Linked DNA regions of Homo sapiens. The protein of the gene in region 7 purifies or fractionates together with the protein of the main gene of each other region. This does not show direct contact. Each region holds a gene or a part of one and is shown on either strand. Other genes may lie near its edges. The genes, in order: LEMD3, SLC44A5, RET, COLEC12, ANO6, PCDH10 and SMIM5.

Region 1 (3,136 bases), on a different chromosome or scaffold from region 7:
TTATCCCTCTTTGTCCAACCTTTCAACAGGTCATGTCATATCTACTCCATAATATGTCCTGATTCTATCCGCTTGTCACTTGCACTGTTGGCCTGTCTTACCCACATCATTATCCTCTCCTTCTTAGACAACTATAATATAATAATAACCTTCTAACTGGTCATCTTGCATTCACTTCTGCTTTTACCTGAGTCTCCACATAACAATGTATTTTTAAAATATGTAGTTTTAAAAGACAGATCTCATCCTATTCTACTCCTTAAAACAGTTGAGTGGCTATTACTCTTACCATAATGCCCAAATACTTTTTTGTAGCCTACATCATCTTAAATAATCTGACATCTTCTGTAGGTTTATCTCTATTCTTTCTACTCCAGCCACATTTGCTCCTTCGTGCCCCAGGAGCTGTGTACAAGCAATCACCTCTGCTTGAAATCTTCCTTTACACACCTCTCTTCACCCTGCTAATTTTTATTCTTCAGTTCCCACATAAATTTCACTTTTTCAGGGAAGTTTTATTTTCTCATATGAGGTTAAGTTACTTTTAAAAAGCTTTTTGTACTTTTTTTTTTAAGGACTTAATCACAGTTGTACTTTCTTACATGACACTCTTTATCATCTGTCTCTCCCATTAAACTGTAAACTCTTTGATAGCAATGACTGTCTTACTCACCTTAACATCTAACCAGGGGTCTGGCTCCTAGTAAAAGCATGCAGTGAATATTTTTTGAATGAACTGAATGATTGAATACCTTTCAACAAACTAGAACAATGTCAAATAGTAAAACTAACTTGTTTTTTGTAGCATTTCATTTAGATAGAAGAAATTCACCACCAAATAGTTTGACACCGTGTCTAAAGATTCGGAATATGTTTGATCCCGTTATGTAAGTATTATGATCAGGGGTACATGTAACTCTTATTCTGAATATTTGGCTGGAAAATGCATGATATTCTTATAATGGTGTGTCTGTAATTGAAAATGTTTTTCTTCTGAATCTCTACCACAGAAATGTTATGTTTTTCTCTTTCATTAAATTCCAAGCAAAGATTTGGCCAAAGGACACTAATGTATAAAGATTTGTAAAACTTTTATAAATCTTTGTATTCCTTATGAATCGTCATAGCAGATAGATAAATGCTTGAGGCAAATTAATGACTCACAATGACAAAGAGTACCCTTTATTAAATGTGTAAGTCATTATACATGACTGTCAATATTTTTGCCTCAGTAGAAAATATAGATACAATCACTGCTGCTTACAAATTTCAAATCTCAAATTGTAAAAAGTTTCCTACAAAGATGTATATACCTGCTTCTCTACAAAGTCCTGTCTCCACTTGTCAATATAATATTTGAAGAACTTTTCAGACTTTATAATTCCAACAACATATGCTTCCAGAGAATAGCACAGTCAAAAGTGACTGCCTTAGAATTCACAGTATTTCATATATAAGCTGTAATAGTTCTTAGAATTAGCTTCCTGAGGGCACTGCTTATCTATCCAGTGATAGTACAGATCAAATTCTGTTTGTTTTAAAAGTCCCAACAGTGGCAATTACAATATGTATACAATACCCCCAAAGTCTCATCTAATCACTCATTGATGAAATTCCAAATAAGTGACAGCAAAATTGGAAATGTGAGGAAGCAGTATGCACACGTGTTTGCACGTGGGCACGCGCACACACACACACACACACCCCCCCCACACACACAGAGACAAACACCGCCTCTATTTTGCAGAGATAGAAACAATTAGTAGTGTGATGATACCTCTGTTGGGAATCTTACCTCATGCCTTAGGAATTGGCAAGTCCACTATTTTATTACCTAAGATGAAAATTTGTGATTTGAAGTGAAGTCACTTTCCTCTCTCTCCTGCCATCTTTGTCTCACAAGCAAGACAAATGTCCCTTACTACAGCAGAAACACCTTAAAACTGTCATTATAGTAAGGTGACTGTACAAAATGTTAGTCCTGTATCAATTATTTTGGAAAAGAGAAGCTCAAATGTAGTATTTACTAAGAATTTTCTTTAGGAATTTGAACCTATCATTACAATTAAAGAAAATAACATTCGGCTGGGCACAGTGGCTCACACCTATAATCCCAGTGCTTTGGGAAGCCGAGGTGGGTGGATCACTTGAACTCAGGAGTTCGAGACCAGCCTGGGCAATGTGGCAAAACCCCGTCTCTACAAAAAATACAAAAGAAATTAGCCAGAATTGGTGGTGTGTGCCTGTAGTCCCAGCTATCTGGGAGGCTGAGGTGGGAGAATGGTTTGAGCCTGGGAGGCACATATTGCAGTGAGCCGAGATCACGCCACTGCACTCCAGCCTGGGTGACAAAGCGAGACCCTGTCTCAAATAACTAACATTTAACTTTTACAACTTTAATAAGTTCACAACTCATTTAAAGTACTTATTAACAATAGAAAGAAAACAGAAATTACTGTAAGTACACAGGATTTTTAAACATAGGAATGACCCAATCCATTTATTCTGCAGCGGTGGGCTAGTCTTTCATTGCCTCAGCTCTCTGCACTCTTTTTTTTTTTTTTTTGAGACGGAGTCTCACTCTGTTGCCCAGGGTTGAGTGCAGTGGCGTGATCTCGGCTCACTGCAAGCTCTGCCTCCCAGGTTCACGCCATTCTCCTGCCTCAGCCTCCCGAGTAGCTGGGACTACAGACACCTGCCACCACGCCTGGCTAATTTTTTTTTTTTTTTGTATTTTTAGTAGAGACGGGGTTTCACCGTGTTAGTCAGGATGGTCTCGATCTCCTGACCTCATGATCCGCCTGCCTCGGCCTCTCAAAGTGCTGGGATTACAGGCATGAGCCACCGCGCCTGGCCAGCGCTCTGCACTCTTTTACTGGAAAGTGGGAGGAGGGCTGAGACTTCTGAATTGTAATTTTTAAATCTACCTCCTGTTAGTCAACAAGCATTTACTTAATACCAATTAAAATCGTATGTGGTTTTAAAACTATACCAATTCTAGTAATATATATATGTTGTAAGAGACAGTGAAGAATTTTTACCGAGTAGGAATATGGTTGTTGATTTTTGTTTTCATTAACTTTTAGGGAAATAGGGGATCAGTGGCATTTGGCAATTCAAGAAGCAATTTTAGAAA
Region 2 (3,500 bases), on a different chromosome or scaffold from region 7:
ACTGCTCATTCCCCTATTCCCCCAGCTCTTAGTAAACTCCATTATATTTTTTGTCTGTATAAATTTGCTTCTCCTAGGTGCTTCAAATAGGAGGAATCATACAATATTTACCCTTTTGTATCTTGCTTATTTCACTTAGCATGATGTCGTCAAGGGTCATCATTTCATTCCTTTTTAAGGTTGAATAATATTTGATTGTGTGTACATAACACATTTTGTTTATTCATTTGTTAATTGGAATTTGGGTTGTTTATACCTTCTGGCTATTCTGAATAATGCTGTTATGAACAGTGATGTGCAAGTATCTGTTTGAGTTCCTTCTTTCAATTCTTTTCATGTATATCTAGATATAGGATTTCTGGGTCATATAAAATTATATTTAAAAATTTTTTAGAAGCTGCCATACTGTTTTCTACAGTGACTACATCATTTGACATTCCCTCCAGCAATACACAGGGTTCCAATTTCTCCACATTCTTACCAACACTTGTTATTTTCTGCTTTTTTCTTTGTTTTTATATATATATAATAGCCATTCTAATGTGTATGGAGTCTCATTGTGGTTTTGACTTGCATTTCCCTAATGACTAGTGATATTAAGCATCTTTTCATGTCCTCATTGGCCATTTGTATATCATTTTTGGAGAAATATCTATTCAAGTTCTTTGTCCATTTTTGAACTGGGTTGCTTATTATTTTGCTGTTGAGTTGTAGAAGTTCTTTTATGTTCTGGATATGAATTCCTTATCTGGCATATGATTTGGAAATATTTTCTTCCATCATGTGGGCTGTCTTTTCACTCTCTTGGTAGTGTTCTTTGTTGAATAAATGTTTTTAAATTTGATGAAGTTCAATTTATTTTTCTTTTGTTGCCTATGCTTTGGGTGTACTATCTAAGAAATAATCACCAAATCCAATGTCATGAAGCTTTCATCTTATGTTTTCTTCTAAGAGTTTTATAGTTTTTGTGCTTTTGTTTAGGTCTTTGATCCATTTTTAGTTAATTTTTGTATGTTAATGTAAGATAAGGTTGAACTTCATTCTTTTGCATGTGGATATCCCATTTTCCCAGCACCATTAGTTGAAAAGACTGATCTTTTCCCATTGAATGGTCTTATATGTGAGAGTTAGTTTCTGGGATTTCTGTTTTATTTTACCTCTATATGTCTGTCCTTATGCTAGTACCACACTCTTTTGATTGCTGTAGATTTATGATAAGTTTTGAAATCAGGAAGTATGAGTCTTCCAGCTTTTTTGTTCCTTTTCAAGTCTTTTTCCAATATTAGTAATAAAATATTTTAAGGTACATTCCAAGCAAAGTTTATGTGTTTGTAAACAATATATATCAGGTATGAAGATTTATGCCCGTGACACCCACATTTATATTTTAAGCCTAACCTGACCTGAACTATATACTTGGAACTGCCAACCTGACATCTCCATCATGCTTCTCAACAATAACATCTCAAAACAGAATTCTTAATCTCCTTTTTGAAATTTGTTTCTTCTGGCTTCCACAGCTTAACAAATAGGATCACACACCTTTTCTCTCTTTTATTCACCACTGTCCCTCCCCTCCCCTGACATCAACTCCTTCAGCAAGCTCTCTCTGGTTTTCCTTCAGAACAGAACGGGTCCCAAATATGCCCTTTCATCCTTACTACCCTAGTCCAAGTTATAATCATCAGGTCTCCCCCAACCCCCAACCCAATTTATTATCTTCACAAAAGTCAGGACATCTGAAATCTTACGTTTAAGACGGTGGTCCAAGTATTCTAGTACAATTTTAAACATTTGAATTAATGCAATAATTAAAGATCCAAATGCTAGGGATCCTGTGTGATATCTGCACAAAAATAAAATGAGAATAAGTTAAAACTTAATACTATTATTTAAGGGGATGCTAATTGAATAATTTTCACAAGTAAAAGGTATCTGCAGAAGGATTAACAGCAAAGAGACTTTTGCACTCTCTTATTTAGATTGATAAAAGTCTCTATAGAGGATTTTAAACCATATACATCTGTCTTACCCTTTATCAGCATAAATGACACCAATAGTCTATCATCATAAAATAGGATGTTTTTACTGCTCAATGGAGACACAGAGCCAAGTTAATCCTTGATCTTTCATTTGGTATCCTCCTCTATCTTTTTCTCTCTCTAGTAACCTATAGCATTTAGAAGGAAATTGGCTTGGGTAGGGATTGTAAAACTGGCTATGAAACCAGACAAAACCAATGGGCATCCATGAATTTTGATTCATACCTTTGATTTCATTTGTACCTTGCCACTTGAATTAATGAGCCAAGACTGAATTACAAGCACACTAAATGTAACTGACAAGATAGGTGTAGGCTTCAACTTGAAACTTACCGTATGGCTCGTCCAAATGCAGTAAAAAGTGGATATCGTGGGATGTCATCAGGTTTTTTCATGGCCCAGTAATAAGTAGCGAATGCACCAGCAAGGGCGCACTGACCTAATGCAATGACGAAGTTTATAAGCCAGAGAAAGACAAATAAGTTGTATACATGGAAGGTAGGGATGTACTGATGGTACAAGCTCTTTCCACCATAGAAAGCAAAGTTACACAGAGCCCCAGGGCAAGCTTTGGCAATTTCAGTTGTATTAAAAATCTGCATTGAGAAAAAGGAACACAAGGACATAATATTAAATATCACTCCAAGATAACAACTCCCTGTGTTTTCCTCTTCCCCTTAATTGCATATCCTGTTGTTTCTCTGTTAGCTCCTGCTCTTACTCCTCTATTTTCTGTTATATCACTTTATATAATTATCTAATGAGTGCTGGAAAGTATCCCATTTTTCATCAAATGCTCATAATCTGCACCCACTATAATTTCACATTTATCAGTGTTGTTGTTGACCATACCTACTTTCTATGGTCTTGGGTATATGGTAGGGCAGGCAAGCTCAGGAAATACAGTGCTTTCTCTCCATTCCACCCACTGTTTTCCATACTCTCCTGCTTACCTGATGCACACTCCCCACTTCAGCACATAGTTGTCCCCATCAGTGTATAGGATCTCTGCTTCGGGACAATTCCTACCACAACTACAAAATGAATTGCAGCAGAAGTCTATATTGAAGTAAGTAAATGAAAGAGTTTCTTGTACTTACCTCTGGGTCACAGGTTTGATTTTCATGTATACAATGCCCCCCTGGAGCTATGACTTTGTATACAGGTACCCCCGATGTCGCCAAGAAACTGAATAAACTCCATTAAGGATAAACCATTTGCTGGTAGATTGAAAATAAATGGACAAGAAAACAATACTGACAACTCAAAAGTGCATGAGAAATTAACTTAAAAAATGCCTAATATTTTAATAATATTCATCTATTTTTCAGGCCTAGATTAATGTAATGTGGGCCAGCTGCACTGAGTGGCCCCTTAAAAACAGTAAAATGTATAGGAGCTTTCTTGGCTTATTGCTAAGGAGCAGTATCATGTGGAGACAAAATAAAACAAATCTAC
Region 3 (3,500 bases), on a different chromosome or scaffold from region 7:
CTGAGTAGCACATGCAGACCTGCAGGCCAGGCTCCCCAGAAAGGCACCCCCTTCTGACTTCAGTGCCCCTCCATCCACACTGCTGCTCCCCTGCCCGATGCTGTGACCCTGACCACTGCCTCTCACCTAGATGGGAACGGCACCTCATCACAGTCCCACCCCACAGACTGTCCCCACACAGCGCCCTATGGAAATGGGGGCAGAACACAGGCCTCGTCTGCCCAGCGTTGGCAGCCCCTCACAGGATGGCCTCTGTCTCCCCAGCTGGCCTCCCTCCCTGGAAGGCAGCTGGGGAGGGCAGGGGATCTTCCCTGCCCCGCAGGGACCCTCACCAGGATCTTGAAGGCATCCACGGAGACCTGGTTCTCCATGGAGTCCAGCGAGGGCCGGCGGGCACCGGAAGAGGAGTAGCTGACCGGGAAGGCCTGGGCGGGCCTCCGGAAGGTCATCTCAGCTGAGGAGATGGGTGGCTTGTGGGCAAACTTGTGGTAGCAGTGGATGCAGAAGGCAGACAGCAGCACCGAGACGATGAAGGAGAAGAGGACAGCGGCTGCGATCACCGTGCGGCACAGCTCGTCGCACAGTGGATCTGTGGGTGGGGGTGGTGTGAGGCTTGGCACCGCCAGAGGCTCGGCACCACTGGGTACAGGCTGCGTATGCTCTGCCTCATGGCTCTCCAGCCTGCCGTGTCCGCGCCAGCTGGGAAGTGGCCATGGAGGTGTGGGAAGGCCTGAGAACACCCCATCGAGCATGGGTACTGCCATTTACTGCCCCCTCCTAGACCACTATTGCCCTCTTACAGATGGAGACAGAGGCTCAGAGAGGCTGAGCAGCCTGCCAAGGTCACACAGCAGAGGCTGTGCTCATTACACCAGCTGGCACTGGAGGGCTGGCAGGGGAGGTCAAAATTTTCCTCTGTTCCAAATGTCTTTGGCATTTTCTTTATGAAAATGCTAAGTGGCTAGGGACGTAGGGCTATATAATACCAGAAAACTCAATGACAGAAACGTGTCCCTATGCTCAGGCAGAACAGCACCCCTGAGTGTAGTCAGTGTGGCTGTGCAACCCACCATACCTGCTGACCTTGAAATGTGTTCCTGGGTGGGTCCCAGCTGCATGGTCACAGGGACAGTGACTTGTCAGGCTGACAAGTTGTTTGGTGGAAGAACTGCTTTTCTGGCCTGTCCATCATAGAACTTATGGCCAGAAGACACTTTACAGGGGCCCTGGCCCCTCTCCTGGGTGGAGTAACAGAGGCCCAGAGGGAGGGAGGGAAGTTTCATGGGGCCCACTCGCCTCCCAGCAATTTCCTCCCTTGTTGGGACCTCAGATGTGCTGTTGAGACCTCTGTGGGGCTGGGAGGTGGTGGTGGTCCCGGCCGCCACCCACTCACCCTGGATGTCTTCGGGCTCGCAGAAGCACTTCTCCTCCTCAGGGAAGCAGTTGCAGGTGCCATAGCCAGCTTTAATCCCCCGGGGCTCCCCAGGCTCGTGTCCCCCAACAATGCTGCCCCCTGAGGGCAGACGTAGCCCACTCAGCCTCCTGGGGCGCCTGACCACCCCAGGCGCCCATATTTCCAGGGCAGTGTCCCAAGGAGCCCCCTCCCCAACTGGTGTCGCAAGCATAGGCCCAGTGAGGCCAGGGGCCCAGCAGCTTGGCTTAGCCGGGCAGGGCTTGGTCACAGTGCCTTTCTGAAGCCATGGGTGAAGCCAGGCCCCCTCCTAACATTTCATCTGAACAAAGGACTCTGCCTCCAAAACTGGAGCCTGGTGGCCTGACCCGCACATTGCAGTGTCCCTCGTCTGGCTCAGGGCCGCACTTTCCCTGTCAGTGTCCCTACTGACCATTCTCTGCTTCTGAAATCTGTGTGTGCCGACTTCTGGGACCTCAGCAGGGGCCTGGACAGTCTGTGGGTCCCTGCCTTCCCCCTGTCCCTGACCCTGCCTGCTCCCTCCCCATGGCTAGGGTGATGCTGAAATGCACAGGAGGCTCAGCTTGATGCATAGAACTGACAGCCCTGGCAACTCTGGCTGAAGTGCCTGTGGGATCCAGGTTTCCCCTACTATCTCCTACCTGTTCCCATGCCCTGATTAAACCCTGCTTACGGAGGCAGTCCTGAGGGCAAATGTTGATGTCTTGGGTCTCCACAACATCGCAGTGGCCGTCGGGGCAGGTCTTGGTGCTGGGAGAGCAGGTGGAGAAGTTCCTGGTGATCCCTGCACAGGACACACAGCAGGCTGTCACCCATGTGGGAGCCCCGCCACACGCCCCCACCACCTCCTAGGCAGATCCTGCCCCTCTAGGGAGGAGCAACTGGAGGCCTGAGTAGGGAAACACCATATACAGAGCCTTGCCAGCGGAAGCATCCTGGGGAGCCATGGCTTATGGGAGAGGAGGTATGGGGGGTTCCTCACACAGGTGGCCCTTACAGCAAAGAGGCCGGGACCCTCTCAGGGCTGCATGGTGAGGGCCCCTCATGGTGGTGGGCACACCCAGGCTGGCCTCTGGCTGATGCAGACAATGAGTCCCCTGCCCACACCACATCCCCTGGCCGAGGACCTCCCAGAAAAACGCCATTCTGTCCCCAGCACATCCCAACTTTGGTTCAGACCTTCCCAAGTCCAGAGTGAATCCGGCCTGGGGACCATTCACTGTACTCACAAGCCCTCTCCCAAGCCCTGCACTGCTGCCCGCTATGCTGGCATCGAGAGCCACATGGGGGATGAGGTGCCAGAAGCAGACCTGGAGCAGGGAGAGCCACCCCAGGCTGGCAGGGCCCCAGGACCCCGTTTCCACCGGTGCCATCGCCCCTGCAGGCCTCCCTTGGGCGTTTCCAGGGCTTACCTTTGCCATCTCCTTGCCTCCACTCACACCTGCCTGTTGGGGAGCCCAGGCCGCCACACTCCTCACACTCCAGCCGTCTCTTGCTGACTGCACAGGACAGGGGGCAGCCCGCCTCCTCGGCCACATCTGCAGGTGGCAGACAAGCAGGGTCACAGGGGGCTGGCCTGGGCCCAGCGTCCAGCTAGTGCCCAAGGACAGGGAACAGCACCAGCTGAGCTGCCCACGGATGGAGCCCAAGGGGACCGGAGTGACAGACCCAGGGCAGCAAAGACAGTGCCAGGAGCACAGGGCGCAGGGCAGGGTACAGGACATCATGGTCACAAAGCAGGGGTCACCTGGGCTGGGGTAAGTACAGGAGGAAGGATGTGAGTGCAGCCAGATTCAGCCAACGACGCCCTGTGGGACCTACATTTCAGATACACAATGAATGGCATGAATGGCAGCTGTGTCAGCATGTTCCTAAGAGGGCATGGATGGACCTAGAGGTGTGTCTTTCGAGAAGCTGCAAAAGTTGCATGGAACACACCTATACCAAAAAACTGCTTGTTGTTTACCCAAAATTCAAATTTACCCAAGGTCCTGTATGTTATCTGGAAGGAGCAACCATTTACTGCTGGGTCACTCAGGGTGAAGCTGGTCCATGCCTTCCCCACTCC
Region 4 (3,500 bases), on a different chromosome or scaffold from region 7:
CAAAGAGCCAGAGTGTGGAGTTCAACCTGAAACCACAGAAGACGCAGTTTGAAGCTGGAGCCTTCAATACTTGACACAAAGCAGGTTTCCAACAAATGCCAAACCAAACATCATAGCAAATGCAGACATTTTTAGGAGCCAGCCTGAAGGACCGTGGACAGGGACTAGGCTGAAGTTAGACTTCTCTTCCATGCTGGCCCACTGGCGCTGTCTACATATGAGTACCCATTGGTTGCTCTATCGTGTTTAGACCAGGGTCCATTCCCAGCTCTTGTACATTTGTCATTACTCTTAGAACAAAATGGTATGGTATCACTGGTTGTTAAAATATTTAAGTGCTTCCAAACCAGCTGGTTGAAGAACAATGGCCTCTGCTCTGAGCATTTCTGCAAGCTGTCCCTGTTTCTACTGTCACCACCACCCACTGTAGCAGGTCCTTGCCCCTGTATCCCTGGGGCCATCAGGACCCCTGAGTCTACAGTCACTCTCCACTGACCAGTGCTCCAAGGAGTTGCTTTCATATGGGAATGGTGGCTTCCACAGTGTGTCACCTGGGTTGCTAAATATTTGGAATGTCCCCTTGATGTTGCTGTGATATCTGGAAGACTTCTTTCCTAACACCAGAGGCTGATAGAATTAATGGTAATGTGTGGGCTTTGAAATTCAAAGACCTGGGTTTGAAGACTGGCTCCACCTTGTAATAGCAATAAGCTCATGTCTGCCTCTCAGTCTCCTATAAGCTGGAACCAATGATTCCTATCTCACACATTTTGGGGAGGGAAATGTGAACTGACACATGGAAAACATCCAACACATACCATCTGCTTAATAAATATGAATTTTCTTTGAAGTAAGAGGACAGAGGCAGTGGTAAAAGCTACTATGCCTTAAGGTCCAAAATAAATATCCTAGAACTTTAATCATCTGGCTTCAAAAGACACAAAACTCCATTCTGAGGTGACTATTTGGGGGAAGGACCAACAGGAAAGCTTGATGAGCAAAAGAGTAATGCGTGCTGCAGGTTCTATTTGGGCTTCAGCAAATTGGCACTGAAGTACCTGGTTGATATTGATGAAAATTTATCTTAACGTATTTTGGGCTGTAAAAACTGAAGAAAGGTGTCCTTTTATCTTGATATGTCCCTAAGCACAGTATCGGTAATATTTGCCCTGGTTTTATAGCTTTACAAATGTAAACCTGGCTCCCCGCATGGTTTCCTTTTTCCAGTCTTGGCATTTCTGGAACACAGTTATTATGTATTCTCCTGGTGAATGAACTCAATGCAGCGTAACAAAGTATCTGAGGTTCAGGATATTTTGTAGGGGGGTAATTAGATCGGCCTTCCATTCAACTGTTTCACTCCAAATGGATGAAGGAATCTGTAGCAGTTTAAATACTTGTAGATTATTTTAAAGTATCACAGGAGATTCATTTTGATTACTCAGCTGCTTACTGAATTTGTTTTGCAACAATGGGATCACTTTTGATTCAATTGCACAGTTTTTTCAAGTCAAAAGTCAAAATTATAGACATAAAATGACTCCAATTTCTGGCACAACTTGCAATTCTGATGCTTGTAAAAATGGCAGATACTTGCTTTTAGAATAAAGAGGCATGGGTACCCTATTCCTTCCTTTACAGTCTAACAAAACTGAGAAAGGGTGTTTTTGTTACTTTTACCCCTAAGTTGGCAGTGGGGGCTAAATCAGATTTCCCCACAGCCACCAACTGCAAGAACTTAGAAGTAATCAGTAAGTACGACATCCAAAACCTTGACATCTGCATTCATCATTCATAGGTGATTATGGTGGAGGTGATGCACTTCCCTTTCTTCTATGAGGAAAATTCTCATCCAGTCATTTTAATCATGTTAATAAGAGAGTCAGAATGAGGCCTTGAATCTCTGCCTTAAATTGAATAAGGGCCTTGGCAGGGCCTCAAATACATGGGTGATTTGGCAAGAAAAACTAATGCTGTCCATTTCTCTGGAGACAAAAAAAAAAAGAGGTCTTTGGTTTAAAAATAACACCGATACGTCTTTTTGTTTTGAAATCCATTAACGTTGTTTAGATTATCTAAACAATTATGCCAAAGCAATATACTATAATTATTTACAAATGTTGGACCAACGTTTTGAGTTTAAGAGACACAATTCAAGAAGACTCTGAATTTGGTTTCCTCTCACCTCCCACACTGAAATGTCACACTTAAGAGATTTCAGGTCAGGCACGGTGGCTCATGCCTGTAATCCCAGCACTTTGGAGGCTGAGGCGGGCAGATCACTTGAGGCTAGGAGTTTGAGACGAGCCTGAGCAACATAGCAAAACCCTGTCTCTACAAAACATACAAAAATTAGTTGGCCATGGTGGCACGCACCTGTACTCAGTCCCAGCTACTTGGGAGGCTGAGGCAGGAGAATCGCTCGAACCCAAGAGACAGAGGTTACAGTGAGCCAAGACTGTGCCACTGCTCAAGGGATCCTCCCACCTCAGTCTCCCAAGTAGCTGGGACTATAGCCACTCACCACCGCACCCATTAAATTTTCTGTGGAGACAGGATCTTGCTGTGTTGATCTGGCTGATCTCAAACTCCTGGCCTCAAGCAACCCTCCCATCTTGGCCTCCCAAAGCACTGAAATTATAAGCACGAGTCATCAGGCTCAGCCCTCCTCTCTTTTAAGACATTTTTCTTTAATGTTGCTTGCCCTATTAATGTAATATGAAATATAATTCAAGATATGAAATATAATGTAATCTGAAATATGAACTATAATTCAAATCTCTCCTGCAAATGAAAATGTCCCTGTCTTCAGCCAGATTATCTGAACCTCAAACAGGGCATGTTCTACTCTCTACTTTGGATTCCAGTTGTTTACGCATAAGTCTTGTCTTGTCTACCAGACTGCAAGCTCCATGAGCACAGAAGCTATATTTTATTCATTTTATTTGGCATTTCTAGAGGGCCTTGCACACAGAAAGTTAATACCAAATATTTGTTTAAAGAATAAATGAAGGCTAGTTAGAACTTGGTGGCCCAATTATAAATAATAAAACAGAAATATGACAGCTTAATGGAAAACTAATACTACTGATGAAATAGACATGACATCATATGGTTTAAAAACATACTTATACATACATCTGTCCGAATACTTATTTAGAGACAAACTTGTTTAATGTTGTGATTCCTTGATGTCATATCCTTACTGGATAAAACCGGACACTGGATTTGAAACACAGATCTTTAAAAATATCATGTCATCAGTAGGCACGTGAGCAATAGTACTAAAAAAAAAACAGTGCTCCTAGGTAATCTAAATATACTTACACATATTTATCAATTTTCTACCACTACTATAACAAATAGAAAAACTGTTTCATTACTACAATTACAAACTTCACTTTGGGAATTATCCCTGCATTTTTTATGATGATAGCAGTGACGGCAGCTGGAATGCAACCAATACTAATACTTCCCCACGTGGAGCACAACTCACTCCT
Region 5 (3,500 bases), on a different chromosome or scaffold from region 7:
AAAAAACAGGTACGTGGCTCCAGACAGACATGAAGTTAACTCTCCTCTCCTCGTCACTCTCCACATCCAATCCATAAACAAGTCCTGTCGACCCGACTCCCCAAACACATCCCAAATCTGCTCCCACAGTCTTCTGCCTGGCTCAAACAGCCTCCTACCTAGTGGTCTCCCTGCTCCCTGTACCCCTTATAATCCATTCTCCACATTATCTGCAAAACGTGAATAGGATACAATGACTTAAACATTTAAAATATTACAACTGCTTCTCACTGCAATTAAAGTCTAAACTCTTTTCGGCGCTCCTGCCACCCCTCTAACTTCATGTCTTGCTCTGTTTCTCACTAGCACTGGTCTCTGATGTTTCCTCAAACTTGCCAAATGTGTGTGCATCTCAGGGCCACTGTACAAGCTGCCCCTATTCCTAGAAGGACTTCTGCCAAGTCCTCAAAGCACTGGCTCCTCTTCACTATCCGATCTCAGCTTAAAAGTCACCTCCTCAAAGATAACTCCCTCAACTCACTTCCCACTCTGCCCTCCCATCCTATTGCTCTGTTATTTTCTTCACTTCCATTAGAAATTCTGTTTATTTATTTTCATGTTTTATTGGCTTGTTTGGGTGTTCTTGGTCTATCTCCCACAAGCCAGAATCCTCAGCCCTGCCCAAACAACGTAAGCTTCTGGAGGAAAACCAACAGGGTACCTTGGGAAGAAAAACTCTTGAGCTAGTCATTGTATCTTGTGAGATACAACGAAATAGAACCTAGAGGCAGACATAAGAAAAGAGTGAAAATGTACATGTCTTACCATACAATAGAAACTACATCTAACATTTACTTCTGTGCAATATGGAATTTGGTGGGTCTGCATCCCAGTTCCTGGGCGGTGGGTAACCTCTAAACCCTTGGAACTTCCTGAGAGATAGGAGTGCCTTTTTATTCACAGTGGGACCCTAGGACTACGCCTGATAGTTTATGCCAGTGAAGTGGCTCATGGTGGACCTCTAGAGAGTTTGTGCTAATGAGATGACTCAGGGTGGAGGCTGGCCATGCCAGAAGATCAACCATGTGATTGGAGAACTGGAGCTTTGAGCCACATATTACTGGCCATCTTCCAGGGGGAGGATGATACTGGAGATGGGTAATGATTCAATTAATCATGCCCACATAATTAAGCCTCAATAAAAACCCTGGCCAACGAAGCTCAGCACTCTGGGTCAGCTCCCTTCACTGGCAAGAGTCTTGATGAGTACTGTCACATTCAGATGCTGTGGGGGTAACACCCTGAGTGCCTCCCCCTGGAGTACTCCCTACAACCCCTCACCTGATAAGATCCAAGGGCTGCTTTTTGTATATGCTTCGAGGATGAGCCCATTCTCTGTACAGAAGGTACCGTTCATTAGGGCAGCTGGGATCCTCTGACTGACGGCGGAATTTGCACTGTGACGCAGAAGGGAACATGTAAGCACCATAATCATCGTGTTTTCACAAATCTGCTTCTTAAATGTGATACAAATACTTGATAGTCAATTGTGAACAAGGGGTCCTCACCTTCTGGAAAGGGTGGAAATACCATCTAATTTTTAGTGATTCTTAACCAGGCATGGTACTACCCTCCTTGGGGGTCATTTATGAATGTGGGCAGGGATGAACGATTGGGTGTTACAATCCTGGGGAGCACTGCAGGGACTCTGTGAGGGCCCCAGAGATGCTTAAAATGCTTTAAGTGGGGCAGTCCTACACAATGAAAAATTGGGCCACCCAAGTGCCCAAATCACCACACCAGAGGAACACGTGATAACCCACCCCTCTCCTTGGACAATGGGGAAACCAAGGCCTTGGCTGGTTAGCAGCAGGGTCAATTCTAAAACCTAGGCTTCTTTGCCCCCAGTTCAGCAGTTATTCTGTGATAACATACAGAAAACAAACAATAAAGCTGGGTATCATGTTACACACTTAGCTTATTCAAGAAACAAAACTTCCTGCTTAAATCCAGTTGCCTTTTTTTCTGACTCATTTTTCTTCTTCTGGCACTAGAACCAGATTACCACCCAGCCAAATCAGGGCACAGGCCCTGACCTTCACACACCTCCCTCTCAAATACCACATGGGACCATTTGTTAGCCTGAATACAGGACCACTGCAATTAGAAGAGGCTTTAGTGGAAAAGACATGGCCAAAAGCAAATGTCAACTGTTAGAGAACCCTGGCATCCCAAATTAATATTCGTGACAGCTATTTGCAAGTGGCCTCAAAATTCATGTCCTGTTATTCGCAATTAGCTAAATTCAGTGGGGCACAAAAGTAAAACACATGGACTCTCAGGCTGGATGGCTACATTGGGTCTCTTAGGATCAGTATTTACCTCACCCAGCTCCCTGTTCTCTACTTTTCCATGTGTATCAAGCTGCTGTTTAGTGTCCTAGTTTTATTATGTTATTCAGTACATTTCAATATCGTCTCTATCCACAAATACATGTACTACACAGTAGCAATTACCAATCTCAGTCTTTACTTTCTTTGGTCTTACACAGTCAGATAAATTGATAGTGAATATAACAAAGTAATAATGCAATATAATATAGTATTTAATTTATTTCAATGACAGAGTTTAAACAGCTTTAGTTATAATGTCCCTGCATTTACAGTGGTCACATTTTAAAAATTTCATTTCACGAGAGATGTTCTCGGCTAGAGAAGTACTCTTGAATTTGAGGGGTTGCTGTGGTCTCAGAATGTAGTCCTTAAAAAAATGTCAACCATCTGGGGTACTGCCATTGTCACAACAACCCTGACAGATGCCTTTTTAAAAGCCCAGGGATATTCCAGGGGACAGTTTGAAAATCGTATTCCAAATGAGGAAGAAAAGTCTATGTTGCAGAAAATGATAAATGAGAAGGTCTAACATGTATTTTGCTGACAAAGAACTAATCTTTTCTGGTTGATAATAACATCTGTTAGTAATTATGAAAACAGCTAACACTTATAATAGTATTTATTATATGCTAGGGACTAACATTTGGATTAATTTAATGGATTAATTTAATCCTCTTAACAACTCTAGGAGGTAGGTAATAATTTATCCCCAGCTTATTGATGAGGAAATGGAGGAAGAAAGGCTAAATGACTTTCACAAGGTCATCCAGCTAGAAAGTGGCAGGGCAGGCATTTTGGTCTCAGAAATGCTAACACAGATTAACTGCTAATCTATACTGCTTTACACATTAACTGTGAGAGAGGTCCTGTCCATTCATTCATTCGCTCCTTTAAAACTGAGTATCTTTATAACTGGGATCCATCTGTGAACAAAAGACCTAGTTCTTACCCTAAATGAGCTTGTAATCTTGCAGTATGTTCCCTTCATTTTACTGAGGAAGAAACTTACAGTCAGGAAAGTTAGCCCTTTGCTATTGTCAACACCAGAGTATACAGAAGGCCTTTTAGTTCATTTTTGCCTTTTAACTTACATCATGGAGTGGGAAAGCTGCCTTGTAGATCCCAGAG
Region 6 (3,500 bases), on a different chromosome or scaffold from region 7:
TGTACACTCACAGGCAGTGGATATTTCCATTGAGACCAAATTGTGATTTCAAAAATTTTAGAATTCAATTTGTGCTACTTTTTCGGTGACTGTCATAATACAATATTGCGTGAACATTTCTTTTTGTGCAACAAGCTTTCATTCAAAGCGTTTATTTTTTTCCAAATATGATAAATTAATTTTAAAGAAGATATAAAACTTTTCATTTTTTGAGATTTCTAGTCCTCTTTTAACGACTTAAAATACATTAATTGTAACCACAAAAATTGCAGTATGTTTTAGAAAAACATGGTTTTGAAGCAGATAGTTATTAACATAACTCACTCATGAAAAAAATCAAAATATGCCCATCAAAATTTTCTCCCTACCAATAATCTTTCAAAATGTATATATTTTTCACCATTTCCTCTCAATATTTCATCTTCTATATTGCCTCCAGTTATAAATCTCTGCACATTTTCAAGTTGCAGCTCAAAGTTTCACCAGTGAATAAGGTTTTATAAATACTGGTGTAAATCCATTTTATATATAAACCCAAAATCAAACTTGGCAATTATCTAAATTCTTAATGGAGTTTGGAAATAGGTATTTGTGTTTATAATAAACCAAGAATTCTATTGCTGACACTGTAGTAATGCACTGGCTTAATGCATTTCAATGGTATATTTTATCTACTAATTTGAAATTATTGACCAATCAAATCACTTTATTTTTAAAATTCATAGCCAAATTTTGACCATGCATTATATCTATAATTAGTTAGAAACTAAACATATTTGGAAGATAAGTTCTCCTATAACTGAAAGAAAAAATTATTGAAGAGAAATTTGACAATTTTCAGAGAATGTCTAACAAGTAATTCAATCACTTATTAGGATTATCTCTTCAACATATTTTTTTAAAGGCACAAGGTATTAAAAATAAATCTATAATTAAGCTTAGCATTATTGACAATGTAGGTATTTTATAACGGGAAAAGCAACCTCTCACTACTAAACAGATCACTTTAGATATACCTCAAATAATATTAAAATGTTTAAGAATATACAATTTAAAATATTCTATCTGTATCCTAAAATAGAAGAAATAATTATGCTTTAATGATATAATAAAGTTGAAAATATATTTCTTTAAAGTCCAATTCTTTGGCTGTTTAAGCTGTGATTAATCAGTTTTTCCTCTTGTGATGGTTTATGTCTGCATTTGCCACTTCTCCTTGGACTACTGCCATATCTAACCAATACATCAATAGTTCACTGAAAAAAACGGGAAGCACCTTGACAAGGCTATAGAAAGAAAGTGCCACAGAGCAGTGGTCAAGGCGAAGAATTTCACACATGGAGCCAGGTGCAGTGGAAAACTGAAAAAGCTTATGTGATTCTCTGTGCAGCTGCCTTCGTGTTTAAAGCCCTTCTATGAACAACATTGGTGACGGCAAATGGCTTAGAAAAAAGAAAAGCAAGAAGGAGGGGGTGGAAGATAGAACAAAAAAAGAAAACTATTCATAAAAGAATAAATAGAAGGCATATCTAAATAAATAATACAGAATAATGTTAATGTAGAAAAAGAAATAGGAATAAAGAAAAAGGAAGTTTAAACAGGTGAAGCACTAAGCTAAATAGTCTGTACACTATAGTGTGGAATATGGTACAAACTGAAAGAGAGAATTCGGAGTCTCTATCTTTCCAATGTTAGTTTTGCTTGATAATCTAACTTTTCCCTACTAAAACCTAGTTAAGTGAGATTTGCTTATTATAACACAAGGTTTTTTTCCTATCCTGAACTTAGAAAGCTATGCTATGAGTAATATTACCTAATTTTGCAAAATTGGAAAATCATTAATATCTGGCTTTACAATGAAATAAAACAGATTTATCTGAAATGGGCTTAAATTTTTGGAAATAGTCTAGCTGCCTGATGTGAGGTTTATAGTACATAACAGCAGTATGGATTGAAAAAAGTCTTTAAGCAAATGCATTTTAATTCTCTGCATTTGAGGTTTTATACTTAAAAAAGAAAACACTTCAAAATTATTCTTACAATAAAATTAGACATTAAATCTGATTGCAATTCAGCACACAAAGGTGCAATCACTTCTTAACATAAGTGCTTTATTACAATCCTAAAATAGCTATTATTGTGCCCAGTATGTTGTGGCTGCCGTGTAACTACTAATAAGATACATAAAAGGATTGTTAATTCTGTAACACTTTTACATGTTTAAGAACTTAAAGATACAAAAAAATTTTAACATTTTGATAAAAACAAAAACTGCCTGGCTGAAATGTTTTCCACAACACATTTTAACATTTTAGTATTCTTTTAAATGCTTTGACATCTCCAATAATTTGAAAGAAACATTACAGAAATGGTAACACTGAGTGACTGTGAAATAAAGTAGCTACTGGGAAGATGCACTGATAAGAATATGTTCTCATCTATCTTCCAAATTTGGCTCTTTTGCAGATGTTTATTCATTTCTCTTTCTTCAGTTAGGTTATTATGGGTCATTATGTCTGAGGGACTAAACTAATTGAAATGTTCATTGAGATTGAAGTGCTACAGGAAAAACAAAGCGGGGCGTGTGGGGTGGGAAAGGAGTAAAATGCATCCAAAGAAACATGCAACAGATACTCTTTAAAACATTAAACATTTTGTTTTAAAAGTTTTAAAAGGTTGACAGTTAAATTAGAAACTCTGAAAAAGAACAGGAATGAGCAATGCTAAATGTACAGTTTTTAAAGATAACAATAAATCATATGCCATATATAGGGCAAAAATGAAAGGGACTTTGTACGCACATATAAACTTCTGGCAAGATCTGGTTTGTTGTCAGGTTCCCAGACACTAAATAGATGCTCTGTTCACTTAGCGTGAAGGCCCGCAAGGGGCAGAGACCTCCGGGGATTCTTGGCAGTTCTCAAGTCTCATTAGGCCTGCATATTAATGACTCACAGCAATATAAAGAGACCCTTGAGCAGCCTTTTTTCCCTTCCTCCTGCCTGGGTTTCCCAAGGCTAAGGCAGCCACAGACACAGCACACATTAGCCAAGTGAGAGGCTTGTAGCAACCACTGCTGCCAGGCCACCATGGGGTGTACGCTGCCCTTTGACACACTGCCTCAGCACCATCCAGAGGTCCACAAGTGTGTTAAGGAATGGGTGCTCTCGAGGACTAATATCACCTTGAAAATGAGAACCTATCACTCTATGGTTATATTATTAAGTAAAATAAAGGTCCAGTCTCAAGAGAGTTGAACCCAAAGACAGTCTAAGATCGACATTTTCAGGAGTTAGAAAAGTTGACTAGCCTTTCTATTTCTTCATGTGTCAAATAAACACAAAACTAGATAGAAAAAGTAAAATATTCAACAAACACCCTTCAAAGATGAAAACCAAAAAATTAGGAAGGACACCAGAAGTTTATTAAATCATTTTCATTTTAACATACATATTTTATTTCATGTAAGAGTTTCCTTTTAGTATTAGTAATAAGAGTTA
Region 7 (2,736 bases):
GGGAGTTCGGCTTAGGGAAGTTGAGTCACGCAGCTGACAGGGTGAGGGTGTGAGCCCAGACAGCACACAAATGGGGGAGGGCCACAGGGTCAGGAGGCAGGTTACAGGTGACATTAGGGCCTTCCTCTGGCAGTTTGTGAAGACCCACTGGTCTGAGTCTGCTAGTGTGGGATGTGCAGGCCAAAGGTGCAGGCAGTTGACAGAGTAAAGTGCTGTTCCTGAGCTTAGCTCCTGCCTTTGGGCAAACACAGTCTCTGCCACTCTGCAGAGTAGTGCCTCAGCCTGGCAGAGCTCATTAGCAGCTAATGCATGACAGGAATTTCATGGCACCGTCCACTGGTCCCGTGGTGTTAACCGCCTGTGTGGCATGCTTCTCTGCGTGGTTTTCCAGCTTTCGTGGGCACAGGGAGAGCAGAGGCCTGGGAAGGACGGGCACCAGCCATACCCCCTCCCAATGTACAGAGCCCAGCCCAACCTCAGGGAGTCCGGCACCGCAGAAACACGTAACACAAAAGCTTTTACTTGGAAACTGGCAAATACTGGACTAGAATACTGACATGCTCACGCTCTGGCGGGAGCTCGGATGCAGAAGCTATTGCACAAAGCCCCTCTGATTGCCTTGCTCCTCTTTGGCATGTATCAGCAGAGCCCCAAGGGCCAATTGCCCACAGGTGGGGACTGTTCTCCATCAAGGTATGGGGACCCCTACTTCCTTGTTTTGTTAAAAAGTGCAGGTAGGCGAAGAAGCCCAGGCAGTTGACCCAGTCTTTGAAACAGCTGACTCCCCAGCACCCAGTGTCCACTGGCAGATGAGAGGTTTGCACCTATACCAGCCCTTGTTTCCTTGGTAGGGCTCAAGTTGTCAGTGTCCAGGTACCTGGGCTGGGCCAGAGCTGGGGCCAGGGGAGCCTGGTCTTGAGGGGTAAGGGCTGCAGGGCCAGGCTGATGGCCTGTGTCATGGCATTGGCCATCTCCTCTCCAGCTTCTCCTCAGCCATCGCCCGTCCGTCATGGTGGTGTCGGCTGCACCTGGACCTTCCTGCCTCTCCGCTCAGGGCAGCAGCAGTGAGTGCAGCAGCAGCTGCAGGCTATCAGCAGCAACAGCAGAACAGTAGCTGGAGGGCCGGGAGAGAGCACGGGACTCAGGTTGGGGGAGAGAAAGGATGCCCACCCTCCTCCCAGAGAAACCCACTGCCTGCCAGGGTCTTTCCCCCACAGGTTTGGTGGAGGTCAGAAAGATCCGAGAGGCTGGTGAGAGGTGCGGACGGTCCCCATGCCAGCCGCCAGGGCCAACCTCCTCCATGTTGTGTCTTCTCTTTCACTGCCCAAGCCTGGCTCCCGTCATCCCCGCGTTTGGGATCCCGGGGTACTGCTGGGCCCAGTCCCCAGCACCGCCCATCACCCAAGCAGCATATCAGAGGATGAGGGAAGTCCCTTGGCTTCCCCCAAGGGACAACTGGTTTTCCTCCTTGATCCGGCAGACACCCGCCACCTCTGCCAGCCCTCTGGCTGGCACCATGGTGTGGTCTCTCCCAGATGCCAGGGAGAGCCATGGGGTGCTGAGTGCCCCAACTAACCTGTGAAAAGGATGATGACTGAGAAGGCCACGATCTCCACGGGCTCAGCCTGGGGCAGTCTCTGCAGCTTGAGCAGCAGCCTCTCGCCCACGGCGCGCATCTCCTGCACGAAGTCGGTGGCAGCCATGCCGCGCTGGCTTCCTGTTGGGGCTCCTGCCGGGCTCTGCTGGGGCAGAGAGAACACCTGGAGCCTCCACGGCTGGCCCCACACTCGTCGCAGCACCGAGATTCCACCCTCGCACCCATCCGCAGCCCGCAGAACAAGTTTGTCAGGTCTCACACATTGCACCCCTGGTGACTTCCACCTAGTGGTGGCCCTCAGTCCCCACCCAGCTGACACAGCTCAGGGTGGAGGAAGCCGGTGAGGACAGTGAGACCAAGGGCTTGCTTCGGGGGCTGCCGGCCAAGGCGGCGGCTGGTGGTGGTTTCTGGCTTCGCTGTTCCATTCCCTTGTCTTGAGGTACCACTACTGGGTTTTGCCTGGGTGCTTGGGACTGGCACAGCTCCCTCGGGGTGGGGAGACTGGGATAGGATGCCAAGCTGGTACTCTTGCCTTCCATCAATGTGGGGACAGAAGGAGCAGGTTCTCCCGAGAGCAGGTTCATGGGGCTTCTGGCCAGGGTCAGTCAGAGGTGAAAACTGCCCCCCTGTCCCCCAGGCCCCCCAACCTCTCCCACCAGCCCAGTTTCTACACTCATGCCTGTTCTGCCAGAGGGGGAGGCCGCACCGTGTCCCTCCAGGTTTTGCCAGGGTTTCTGTCCTGTCTGTTGGGAGGGGGTCAGGAGGCCCAGGTTGCTCAAGCCAGCCCCTCCCCTGCTGGCGTCATCTGTTTCTCTAGCCTGACCAGGAAAGTCCTCTCCACTCCCACCCCTGCCCCAGGAGAGCCTCTTCCTGTCTCAGGGTGCCCAAGAGGCCCAAGGTGCCACTCCAGAAGGCTTTCCCCTTCTGCCTCTCCTGTGGGCATGAGGGAGCTGGTGCCTCTTTAGAGAGGAGCCAGAGACAACCTTGTCCCAACCCAGCCTGATCCAGTTCACCAAGGCAGTTGCTCTAATCCAGGGGTGGTGGTGGGGACAGGTGGCCAGGGGCTGGTGCCAGACCTTTGGCTGTAATTATCGTTGCCTTGTCCCAGGTCTCAGCCGGTTCTCGCTGAGATGGCTACG

Evidence for each region.
Region 1: the proteins of SMIM5 (region 7) and LEMD3 purify together in Homo sapiens (affinity purification with mass spectrometry; one large-scale study listed by BioGRID and IntAct). This does not show direct contact.
Region 2: the proteins of SMIM5 (region 7) and SLC44A5 purify together in Homo sapiens (affinity purification with mass spectrometry; one large-scale study listed by BioGRID and IntAct). This does not show direct contact.
Region 3: the proteins of SMIM5 (region 7) and RET purify together in Homo sapiens (affinity purification with mass spectrometry; one large-scale study listed by BioGRID and IntAct). This does not show direct contact.
Region 4: the proteins of SMIM5 (region 7) and COLEC12 purify together in Homo sapiens (affinity purification with mass spectrometry; one large-scale study listed by BioGRID and IntAct). This does not show direct contact.
Region 5: the proteins of SMIM5 (region 7) and ANO6 purify together in Homo sapiens (affinity purification with mass spectrometry; one large-scale study listed by BioGRID and IntAct). This does not show direct contact.
Region 6: the proteins of SMIM5 (region 7) and PCDH10 purify together in Homo sapiens (affinity purification with mass spectrometry; one large-scale study listed by BioGRID and IntAct). This does not show direct contact.

Annotation. Positions count from the first base shown.
Region 1 is NC_000012.12:65,242,583-65,245,718, forward strand, and holds part of LEMD3 (inner nuclear membrane protein Man1), read left to right. Parts: intron 1-805; coding exon 806-887; intron 888-3,086; coding exon 3,087-3,136.
Region 2 is NC_000001.11:75,216,115-75,219,614, forward strand, and holds part of SLC44A5 (choline transporter-like protein 5), read right to left. Parts: intron 3,231-3,500; coding exon 3,143-3,230; intron 2,639-3,142; coding exon 2,376-2,638; intron 1,847-2,375; coding exon 1,752-1,846; intron 1-1,751.
Region 3 is NC_000010.11:43,111,569-43,115,068, reverse strand, and holds part of RET (proto-oncogene tyrosine-protein kinase receptor Ret isoform a precursor), read right to left. Parts: intron 2,971-3,500; coding exon 2,845-2,970; intron 2,217-2,844; coding exon 2,106-2,216; intron 1,514-2,105; coding exon 1,394-1,513; intron 590-1,393; coding exon 333-589; intron 1-332. UniProt on the Homo sapiens protein: Receptor tyrosine-protein kinase involved in numerous cellular mechanisms including cell proliferation, neuronal navigation, cell migration, and cell differentiation in response to glia cell line-derived growth family factors (GDNF, NRTN, ARTN, PSPN and GDF15).
Region 4 is NC_000018.10:490,702-494,201, forward strand, and holds part of COLEC12 (collectin-12), read right to left. Parts: intron 1-3,500. UniProt on the Homo sapiens protein: Scavenger receptor that displays several functions associated with host defense. Promotes binding and phagocytosis of Gram-positive, Gram-negative bacteria and yeast.
Region 5 is NC_000012.12:45,348,595-45,352,094, reverse strand, and holds part of ANO6 (anoctamin-6), read right to left. Parts: coding exon 3,464-3,500; intron 1,437-3,463; coding exon 1,321-1,436; intron 1-1,320. UniProt on the Homo sapiens protein: Small-conductance calcium-activated nonselective cation (SCAN) channel which acts as a regulator of phospholipid scrambling in platelets and osteoblasts.
Region 6 is NC_000004.12:133,155,794-133,159,293, reverse strand, and holds part of PCDH10 (protocadherin-10 isoform 1 precursor), read right to left. Parts: intron 1-3,500.
Region 7 is NC_000017.11:75,639,169-75,641,904, reverse strand, and holds the end of SMIM5 (small integral membrane protein 5), read right to left. Parts: exon of another isoform or gene 1,740-2,736; coding exon of another isoform or gene 1,704-1,739; coding exon 1,577-1,703; intron 1,115-1,576; coding exon 1,008-1,114; 3' UTR 501-1,007; downstream 1-500.